Regions from separate parts of the Homo sapiens genome. Here region 1 is linked to region 2. The links come from fine-mapping of genetic effects on gene expression. Tissue or cell type: unexposed skin. Region 2 holds a variant in brackets; the other region holds the start of a gene. All regions are shown on one strand. Distances are between the middles of the regions.

Region 1 (5,151 bases), 440 kb after region 2:
GAAAGCCCTTACCAGCTACGGCCCCTCAATCTTGGACTTCTCAGCTTCCATAACTCTAAGAAATAAATTTCTTTCCTAATAAATTACCCAGTTTCAGATATTCTATTATAAGCAACAGAAAATGGACTAATACAGTAAGGGTACATACAAATCTTTAAAAAAAAAAAGCTGAATTATACCTAGTGGCAAAAGTGAGAGAGACCTTCCCCTTCCACTCCCTTTTTCTTAAAGCATTCCCTCGTGCAAACTTGTAATTAAAAATCCTTTATTGGCCAGGTGAGGAGGCTCAATCCTGTAATTCCAGCACTTCGGGATGCTGAGGCAGGAGCACTGCTTAAGCCAAGTTCAAATCAGCCTGGGCAACATGGTGAAAACTCATCTCCTAAAAAATTGGAAAAATTAGCCAGGTGTCGGTGTGCACCTGTAGTCCTAGTTACTTAGTGGGGTGAGGTGGGAGGAGCCCAGGGAAGTGGAGGCTGCAGCTGTGATTGCGCCGCTGCAGCTGTGATTGCGCCACTGCACCGAGCCTGGGTGACAGAGGGAGTCCCTGTCTGAAAACAAAACAAAACTCCTTTTTCTGCTTCTTTGATACAAATGTAAATCTTTTTGTTTGTTTTTTGTTTTTTGAGACAGAATCTTGCTCTGTCGCACAAGCTGGAGTGCAATGGTGCAATCTTGGCACACTGCAACCTCTGCCTCCTGGGTTCAAGTGATTCTCCTGCCTCAGCCTCCTGAGTAGCTGGGATTACAGGCACCCACCGCCAAGCCCGGCTAATTTTTGTATTTTTAGTAGAGATGGGGCTTCCCCATGTTGGTCAAGCTGGTCTTGAACTCCTGACCACATGATCCGCCTGCCTTGGCCTCCCAGAGTGCTGGGATTACAGGTGTGAGCCACCACACCCAGCCTGTAAATCTTTTTAAAAGTGAAATAAGCATTTGGCCAGTTTTACAGCCCAAGAAAGACTTTCTTAAAAGCTTTGGAGCCTACTGTTCGAAAGCGTACTCTTTGAAACCTACTCTTCCAGGAAGATAGATCCCCAATCTCCCCAACTCTGTGAGTTTTTAGCCTGGGCACCTGGTTCCACATCATAAAGATATTTTTATTTTTCCTCTGGATAAAGGCAATTAGATAACAACCACCCCAATTACCAGTAAATTCAGGATAAACTACATGTAGCAAATGGTACTGTCAAGTCCTCTTACCTAAGGACAAATTATTTTTTATCTTGAGAACACGTATGTAATATGAAATCGGTTCTATCTGTCCAGCTACATTTAAAGGAATTAGAATTCTTCCTGCTATCCCATTAGCAAATTGCCCGTGATGTGTGAGGCAATTTAGTTTGTGCTTATTCAACAATGAAGCTGTTTAGCTCTCTTCTACAATTGTGGACAGGAGTTTCTTGGATGGCAGATATGATATTTTAAATTATTTCCCTAACAGCTTCCATGATGTGAAACATGCCTTTGGAGGGTTTTAATGTACCGATCAACTTTTGGACAGAAACCGAATCATGCATTTGTCCGCTGGGAGGGTGTGTCTCGCGCAGACAACTGTTCCCATTTCCAAAACACACACCAGGCTGCGAGGTCTTGGACCACTGTGACTCCCAGGTACCTCCCGTCTGAGGCCGGGCCGAGCGCCCGCACAACTGACCCTCTGACGTCCCTTCTTCCAGGGCACCTGCAAGCAGAGATTGACCTATGGCTCTGGGCCCCTCAACAGCCCTTCCACAATCGGGAGAATCCCTTTAGTTACACAAAGGCCCGGAGCAAGCTTTAAAATGAGAGGCCATCAACAGGTTTTTAAGAAATCTAATCCTCCGCTGTGACGCGGAGCTCAGGCAGGAAAGCCAGGGCAAGTTTTCATACCAGTATAGTCAGCAAAGGGGCGGCGGGGGCGGCGCAGCACCCTGCACTCACACAAGTACTGCCTCTCCCTCTAGCTCGGCTCCTCATTTTACCCCGAGCACACGCAAGCCACCACCCCGGCCTGGGGAGCCCCCCTGCCCAGTCCCCGCCCACCTGCCGGAAACCCCGGGGTCCCACCTGCGGACTTCGAAGAGCGTATCCCGAGCTCGCGGTCGCCCCGCCGCCGACCCCGGGTCAGCCTGTAAATGCAGTAGCAGGCGCCCGCGCCGAGCAGCAGGCCCGCCGCCACCCAGCCCGCGCCCCGGGGGCCACCCATGCTGCCGCCGCGGCAGAGCCGCAGCGCCGGGCCAGGGCAGGAGGCTCGCGGGGGCCAGCGCGGAGGTCTCCAGCGCACGCGGGCCTAGCCGCCACAGCAAACGCCACCTGACCTGGATGTGGAGAAAGGAAATGGGGTCTGAGCTCCGCCTCCCGGAAACGGCCTAGCTCAAAGCCTATAACCGCCCACTCCAGCCCGGCGCGTCCCGGCGGCTTCTCCCAGGCGAGGCGGGGCGGTGCGGGGCGCTGCACACCGGGAGGGGGGGGTCGGACGGTGCGCCCCACGCGGAGACGCCGGGGCCCGCAACCCAGAGCCGAGCTTCCCGTCTCTTCCCCCGGGGCGTGAAGCAACCATTCCTCCCTCCCGCCCCTGGCAGCGGAGCGCGGGGCGGTGCCACGCCCAGCCCCGCCCCCTGGTTGCCGGGACAACGCCCGCACGCGCCCGGCCCCTAGTCCCAGCGCGGGGAGGGTACTATCGCAGCTTCTCCGTCAGGCCTTGGGCCATGGCCTCGCTACGCAATGCCAACCCGAGGCTGAAGAACTACTTCAAGGAGAACTACATTCCTCAGGTCTGCGAGGTACTGGACACGCGTGGCAGCGGACACAGACCGTCGGTGGGGAGTTAGAAGGGGGAGGAGTCAGGAAAGACTTCCCGGAGGAGGGACTAGGTTTCGGGATTGGGGAGGAGTGGAGGGAAGGCGGGGCAGAATGCGAGAAAGTGAAGTCAAATTCGGACTTGTAGGCGATCAGGGCTGAAGACGCTGATTAGAGAGAAAACAGAGGGTGATGGTGGCTGCACGTGGGGAATGGGTGACATCTCCCAGGGGGAATGAGCACAAGGCCCAGATCGGAAACCCCAAACTCAGATTTTAAGGTTTGGACAAGAAGTACCTGAGGAGTGGAGGAGTGAGAAAGAAGTGCCAGAGAGCCTGAGGAGGAAAATCAGCAGACTGGCATTATGAAGAATGTTGTCAGAAGTAGGGAGTAGGCACTAGTCACCTAAGATAAGGAGCTGGATTCTGCCCAAGGTGAGCCTGAGGTTTCCATGGAGCCGTGAGGGCAGAAAATAGATGGAGGTTAGCGGAGGGAAGAGTGGAAGCTGAGACCTTTGGTCAGTGTAGTCAGCCCTTTGTGAAGGTAAGGACCCTCTCAACCAGGATTGCCTTTAGACAACAGGAAGGACTGCCCTCCTACTGCCGTTATAAGAGTAGGGAAGGAAGACAGGAAGGGGATAGACATTAGGTTTTGTAGGTTTGGGGGTAGGAAGCTGAGAACATTTGCCTTTGTTGACCTCTTTTTTTCTCTACAAATAGTTGGTGAGATATTTACCAAGAATGTGCGTGTTTGAGTGGGGATGGGGATGTTGGTGCAGTAGGAGGTTCGAGCAAAGATACGTTATGTGGAGAATGAGGGAGAGAGATGTCTAGGGAAAGAAAGAGGAGGTCCTACCTGAGGGTAGTAACGCTCCTAGGCGGTTGGGAGGGCAATTTGGTAGAGACCCCCCACCCGTCTCTTTTTTGGATGGTAATTGAGAAATATTTATTAAGATGTTAAATACATGTACCCTTTAACCAAGCATTTCTACTTCTAGGGATCTACTTTAGAGAAATACTTGCACATGTGTTCAGGAGGATGTACAAGGATATTCATTATAACTTTGTTTCATAGTAAAAATAGTAAATGACCTAGAGTGACTAAGCGAATGAGGCATTATGTAGAATAAAGTATATCTGTACCTACTAAGAAGAAATGTCCTCCAAGACATATTATTATTATCATCATTATTATTGAGACACGGGGTGTTGGTCTGCCACCCAGGCTAGGGTGTAGTGGCTCCATCCTAGCTCACTGCAGCCTCAAACTCCTGGGCTCAATTGATCCTCCCACCTCATCCTCCCAAGTAGCTAGGACTACAGGCATACACCACATGGCTGGCTCCCAACACATATTATTAAGTAAAAAAGAAAAAGTGCAAGTTGCTTAGCAACTGTCCATTCTGCTCTAGCTGTCCATTTGATTTCATATATGTTGTATATGTGTTTATGTACATATATGTGTATATATCTAGCTTTAAGACAATAGTGCATGCATAGAACCTATGCCAAACTGTTAATAACAGATGTCTTGTGGAATGGTTTTGGGGGAAAAGATGGAGAATTCTAACTTTTTACTCTGTCCATAGCTGTATTGTTTTAATTTATTACAGTGAGTTTTGTGTTGTACCTCTATACAATTGTGCTTGAAAATATGTAGGGAGAATGGTACCCATCTTCCCGGTTGTGTGATTTTCTCAAGTAGCAGTCAGTAAATCAGATGTAGGTACAGAGATAACCAAGTTGACTTCGTCTGGGATAGGAATTTGCCAGGCATATATTAATAGAATGGAAAGGCAGTAGGTTAGGGAGCTAAGCTCCTGAGTATCTGAAGTGATGGGCCAAGGACTCTAAGGACTCAGTGGGAAATGAGAAAAGGATATCATACTGATACATGGACAGAAAGTGAAGACTCCTCTAAGAGGTGAGTGAAGAGAAGTAGAGGGAGTAATTAAGTGAGGGAGCTGGAAACACAGGAGGTGGGGGTCAGAAAGTGGAACGTTTATATTTACAATTCAGGGTGCAGCCATTCTGAGTGATGGCTCAGTCTGTGATATGGCGGTGGAGCAGGTGGCAGAAATGGACTTGAGTTGAGAGTCAGGGTACATCAAGGAAGGGATGGCCTCTTCTCATCTAGGCCGCCAGTTACTATAACATCACAAAGCTGCAATGAGGCAGTCCCCAGTTCCCCCTCTGGGTGAAAGCATTCCTTCCTTACCAGCTTACTGCATTGTTCTGCACCCATAGAGGAGGCCCTTATATGCATTCTCCATTGTCTAAGATCATGTTCTCCTGAGGAGTCCTTCACTCACCTCTGCTAGCACACTAGCAGGAAGTGCAAAGGAGCAATCCTCTGGGCCCCACACACCCA
Region 2 (5,151 bases):
ATGCAACATATATTATGGATATGTTTAATTTCTAACTTTTCTGGGATAAAATTAATGTAAAATCATCTCTTCCAGAAGAGAAAAGGAACTGTGAGGGTTGTGGAGGAAGGGGTTAAGAGAGAAAGAGAGAGAGGATCAACACACAAGATGTACTCTGCATTAATCAATTCATAGTCTTACTACTTAGGTTTTCTTTAGACACCTTCAAATCTATTTCTTCAGTAGTATCTTGATGAGTACATTTCCTCAAAGTGTTAACTGTTAATCAGGTTTAGGAGTCAAGACTTATTAAAAGAAATATCTATCCAGAATACTTGAATATCCATACATAAATAATCAAATATTAAGAACATTACCAAGGTAAATTTATAACAGTATTATCTTAGAATCCTAATTTCTTAAATAATCTATTTAATAAGATTTTATTTTACTTTTGGCCAAATTAAACATGGCTTCACATTATAGGACTTAAAATTAGCCTTTATAACAAGTTTGTTATAAACTCATTTCTTAAACTCAAAAATCATTTGTTTATCTAATTAAATAGGGTGGTTGCCAGGATCTGGAGAAAGGGGAAATGAATACTTTTTCAGTAGCTATAAAGTTTCTGTCATGCAAAAGAAATAAGTTCTAGAGATCTGCTGTATGACATAGTGTCTATGGTTGACAGGATTATATTGTGCACTGAACATATGTTAAGAGGATATGTCTCTTGTTGGGTGTTCTAAACAGCAACCCCCCAACAAAAACTAAAAACCACACACACAAAAGAATACAAGGAAATTTTTGGAAGTGATGGATCGATTTGGTGCCCTGCTTGTGGTGATAGTATCATGGGTTGTGCATATTTCCAGAGTCATCAAATGTATATTTCATTTTTTAAAACAAATTTTTTAGAGACAGGGTCTCACTCTGCTGCCCAGGCTGGAGTGCAGTGGCACAATCACAAATCACTGCAGCCCTGAACTCCTGGACTCAAGCAGCCTCCTAAGTAGCTGAGACTATGGGCGTGCACCACCACTCCAGCTAATTTTTTTTTTAACAGTCAGGATCTCACTATGTTGCCCAGGCTGGCCTCAAGCGATCCTCCCACTTCAGCCTTTCAAAGTGCTGGGATTACAGGCATGAGCCACCATACCCAGCCAAGATGTATGTTTTAAATGTGTGTCATTTTTGTATATCAGTTATATCTTGATAAAGCTATAAAAAATTCATTACAAGCTTTTTAGTTACCCAGATAATACTTTCAGAATGTGAGTAGTAGTTAACTCTATTCCCTATCCGGTATTAAAAAAAATAAAATAAAATGACCAGCCCAGTGCAATTGTGATTCTTCATGATTCTTTCCTAATAAACGAGACACTGTAAATAAAATTTTTAAAATTAAAAATCATCTCTACTTCTTTATATGCTATCTAAAAAGTTAAATATCTGTCAAAAAATTAGTTATTTCCTTTTGATTTTCATTTACAATGTGTACAATATACTTTTTTTCATGTGTAGACTAATATCTATGGTTGTGTGTGTACTAATATCAGACAAAGGGCATATATCTCAATCCTCCTAGTATTTATGTTCCTGAAACAATGTATTTATATTAGTGTTTTGTCTATAGAGTGTATATAATATGAGCAGTTTCTACTTAAAATAATTCTATGTCTTGCTTAAAGTGAAAATTTGCTTCAAGTATTTTTGTCACAAATTTGTCATAAAATTTTGTTTTTTTGTTTTAAGTGAATGAGCACTGGCTATTCCATGATGATTGTACAGTAGAAAGATTCTGTGACTCCCCTGATGGTGTGATGCTCTGTGGCAGTCATGATGGACGGGAGGTGTATGCAGTGACCCATGACCTGACTCCCACTGAAGGCTGGATTATGCAATTCAAGGTGAAATGTTATGATCTTGATTATATAAACAACCATACATTAGCAATATAACAAAAAATATCAGAGAAAAGATGATCTAATATTTCATTGACTTAGTATATACTTTGAAAAGTAAAATTTACTATTAAACTAATATACAACTCAACTATACATTGCTTAATGATTAAAAGTATTTTATTTCTGAACTATTTCAAGTTGAAACTTTTTTTCATCTTTTTTTATTATACTTTAAGTTTTGGGATACACGTGCAGAACATGCAGGTTTGTTACATAGGTATACATGTGGCATGGTGGTTTGCTGCACCCATCAAACCGTCATCTACATTAGGTATTTCTCCTAATGCTATCCCTCCTCCACTCCCCGACAGGCCCCACAGTGCGTGATGTTCCTCTCCCTGTGGCGATGTGTTCTCATTGTTCAACTCCCACCTATGAGTGAGAACATGTGGTGTTTGGTTTTCTGTTCTTGTGTTAGTTTGCTGAGAATGATGGTTTCCAGCTTCATCCATGTCCCTGCAAAGGACATGAACTCATCTTTTTTATGGTTGCATAGTATTCCATGGTGTATATGTGCCACATTTTCTTTATCCAGTCTATCATTGATGGGCATTTGGTTGGTTCCAAGTCTTTGCTATTGTGAACAGTGCCGCAGTAAACATACGTGTGCATGTATTTTTATAGTAGAATGATTTATAATCCTTTGGGTATATACCCAGTAATGGGATTGCTGGGTGCAATGGTATTTCTAGTTCTAGATCCTTGAGGAATTGCCACACTGTCTTCCACGATGGTTGCACTACTTTACACTCCCACCAACAGTGTAAAAGCGTTCCTATTTCTCCACAGCCCCTCTAGCATCTGTTGTTTCCTGACTTTTTAATGATCGCCATTCTAACTGGTGTGAGATGGTA[T/C]CTCAATGTGGTTTTGATTTGCATTTCTCTAATGACCAGTGATGATGAGCATTTTTTCAAGTTTGTTGGCCACATAAATGTCTTCTTTTGAGAAGTGTCTGTTCATATCCTTCGACCACTTTTTGATGTTTTTTTTTTCTTGTAAATTTCTTTAAGGTCTTTGTAGATTCTGGATATTAGCCCTTTGTCAGATGGATAGATTGCAAATTTTTCTCCCATTCTGTTGCCTATTCACTCTAATAGTTTCTTTTGCTGTGCAGGAGCTCTTTAGTTTAATTAGATCCCATTGGTCTACTTTGGCTTTTGTTGCCATTGCTTTTGGTGTTTTAGTCATTAAGTCTTTGCCCATGCTTATGTCCTGAATGGTATTGCCTGAGTTTTCTTTTAGGGTTTTTATGGTTTTAGGTCTTAACATTTAAATCTTTAATCCATCTTGAGTTAATTTTTGAATAAGGTGTAAGGAAGGGATCCAGATTCAGCTTTTTGCATATGGCTAGCCAGTTTTCCCAACACCATTTATTAAATAGGGAATCCTTTCCCCATTGCTTGTTTTTGTCAGGTTTGTCAAAGATCAAGATGGTTGTAGATGTGTGGTGTTATTTCTGAGGCCTCTGTTCTGTTTGATTGGTCTATATAACTGTTTTGGTACCAGTACCATGCTGTTTTTGTTACTGTTGCCTTATAGTATACTTTGAAGTCAGGTAGCATGATGCCTCCAGGTTTGTTCTTTTTGCTTAGGATTGTCTTGGCTATACAGGCTCTTTTCTGGTTCCATGTGAAATTTAAAGTAGTTTTTCCAATTCTGTGAAGAAAGTCAATAGTAGCTTGATGGGGATAGCATTGAATCTATAATTACTTTGGGCAGTATGGCCATTTTCACGATATTGGTTCTTCCTAACCATGGGCATAGAATGTTTTTCCATTTGTTTGTTTGCATCCTCTCTTATTTCCTTGAGCAGTGGTTTGTAGCTCTCCTTGAAGAGGTCCTTCACATCCCTTGTAAGTTGTATTATTCCTAAGTATTTTGTTCTCTTTGTAGCAATTGTGAATGGGAGTTCACTCATGATTTGACTCTCTGTTATTGGTGTACAGAAATGCTTGTGATTTTTGCACATTGATTTTTGTATCCTGAGACTTTGCTGAAGTTGCTTATCAGCTTAAGGAGATTTTGGGCTGAGACGATGGGGTTTTCTAAATACACAATCATGTCATCTGCAAACAGAGACAATTTGACTTCCTCTTTTCCTAACTGAATACCCTTTATTTCTTTCTCTTGCCTGATTGCCCTGGCCAGAATTTCCAATACTGTGTTGAATAAGAGAGAGAGCTAAGAGAGGGCATCCTTGTCTTGTGCCTATTTTCAAAGGGAATGCTTCCAGTTTTTGCCCATTCAGTATGATATTGGCTGTGGATTTGTCATAAATAGCTCTTATTATTTTGAGATATGTTCCATCAATACCTAGTTATTGAGTTTTTAACATGAAGGGCTACTGAATATTGGCGAAGGCCTTTTCTGCATCTATTGAGATAATCATGGCATTTTTGTCATTTATATGTTGGATTATGTTTATTGATTTGTGTATGCTGAACCAGCCTTGTATCCCAGGGATGAAGCCAACTTGATCTTGGTTGGATTTGGTTTGCCAGTATTTTATCAAGGATTTTCACATCAATATTCATAAGGGATATTGGCCTGAAATTTTCTTTTTTTGTGGTGTCTCTGCCAGGTTTTGGTAGCAGGATGATGCTGGCCTCATAAAATGAGTTAGGGGGGATTCCCTCTTTTTCTATTGTTCGGAATAGTTTTAGAAGGAATGGTACCAGCTCCTGTTTGTACCTCTGGTAGAATACAGCTGTGAATCCACCTGGTCCTGGGCTTTTTTTGTTTAGTAGGCTATTAATTACTGCCTCAATTTCAGAAATTGTTATTGGTCTATTCAGGGATTCGACTTCTTCCTGGCTTAGTCTTGGGAGGGTGTATGTGTCGAGGAATTTATCCATTTCTTCTAGATTTTCTAGTTTATTTGCATAGAGGTGTTTATAGTATTCTCTGACGGTAGTTTGTATTTCTGTGGGATCAGTGGTGATATCCCCTTTATCATTTTTTATTGTGTCTATTTGATCCTTCTCTCTTTTCTTCCTTATTCGTCTCACTAGTGGTCCATCTCTTTTGTTGATCTTTTCAAAAAACCAGCTTCTGGATTCATTGATTTTTTTGAAGGGTATTTTGTGTCTCTATCTCCTTCAGTTCTGCTCTGATCTTAGTTATTTGTTGTCTTCTGCTAGCTTTTGAATGTGTTTGCTCCTGCTTCTCTAGTTCTTTTAATTTTGATGTTAGGGTGTCAGTTTTA

Evidence for each region. PIP is the estimated chance that this variant, and not a neighbour inherited with it, causes the effect.
Region 1: ARMC10 starts here. The variant in region 2 is fine-mapped to the expression of ARMC10 in unexposed skin (GTEx, PIP 0.95).

What each region holds. Positions count from the first base shown.
Region 1 is chr7:103,072,310-103,077,460 of GRCh38, reverse strand. ARMC10 (armadillo repeat containing 10) reads right to left here and starts at 2,321. Exons shown (of 7, transcript NM_031905.5): 1 at 2,050-2,321; 2 at 1,580-1,684. The coding sequence starts at 2,188. FBXL13 (F-box and leucine rich repeat protein 13) reads left to right here and starts at 2,665. Exons shown (of 21, transcript NM_001394494.2): 1 at 2,665-2,765. The coding sequence starts at 2,691. RefSeq lists an enhancer at 1,575-1,624 and a silencer at 1,895-2,734.
Region 2 is chr7:103,507,589-103,512,739 of GRCh38, reverse strand. It overlaps RELN (reelin), which reads left to right. Exons shown (of 65, transcript NM_005045.4): 51 at 1,735-1,889. The region is part of intron 3 of SLC26A5-AS1 (SLC26A5 antisense RNA 1); the gene reads right to left. Among named protein-coding and RNA genes, the nearest start is that of SLC26A5, 64 kb to the right of the region's middle. The variant T/C (reference allele first, on the strand shown) is at 2,801.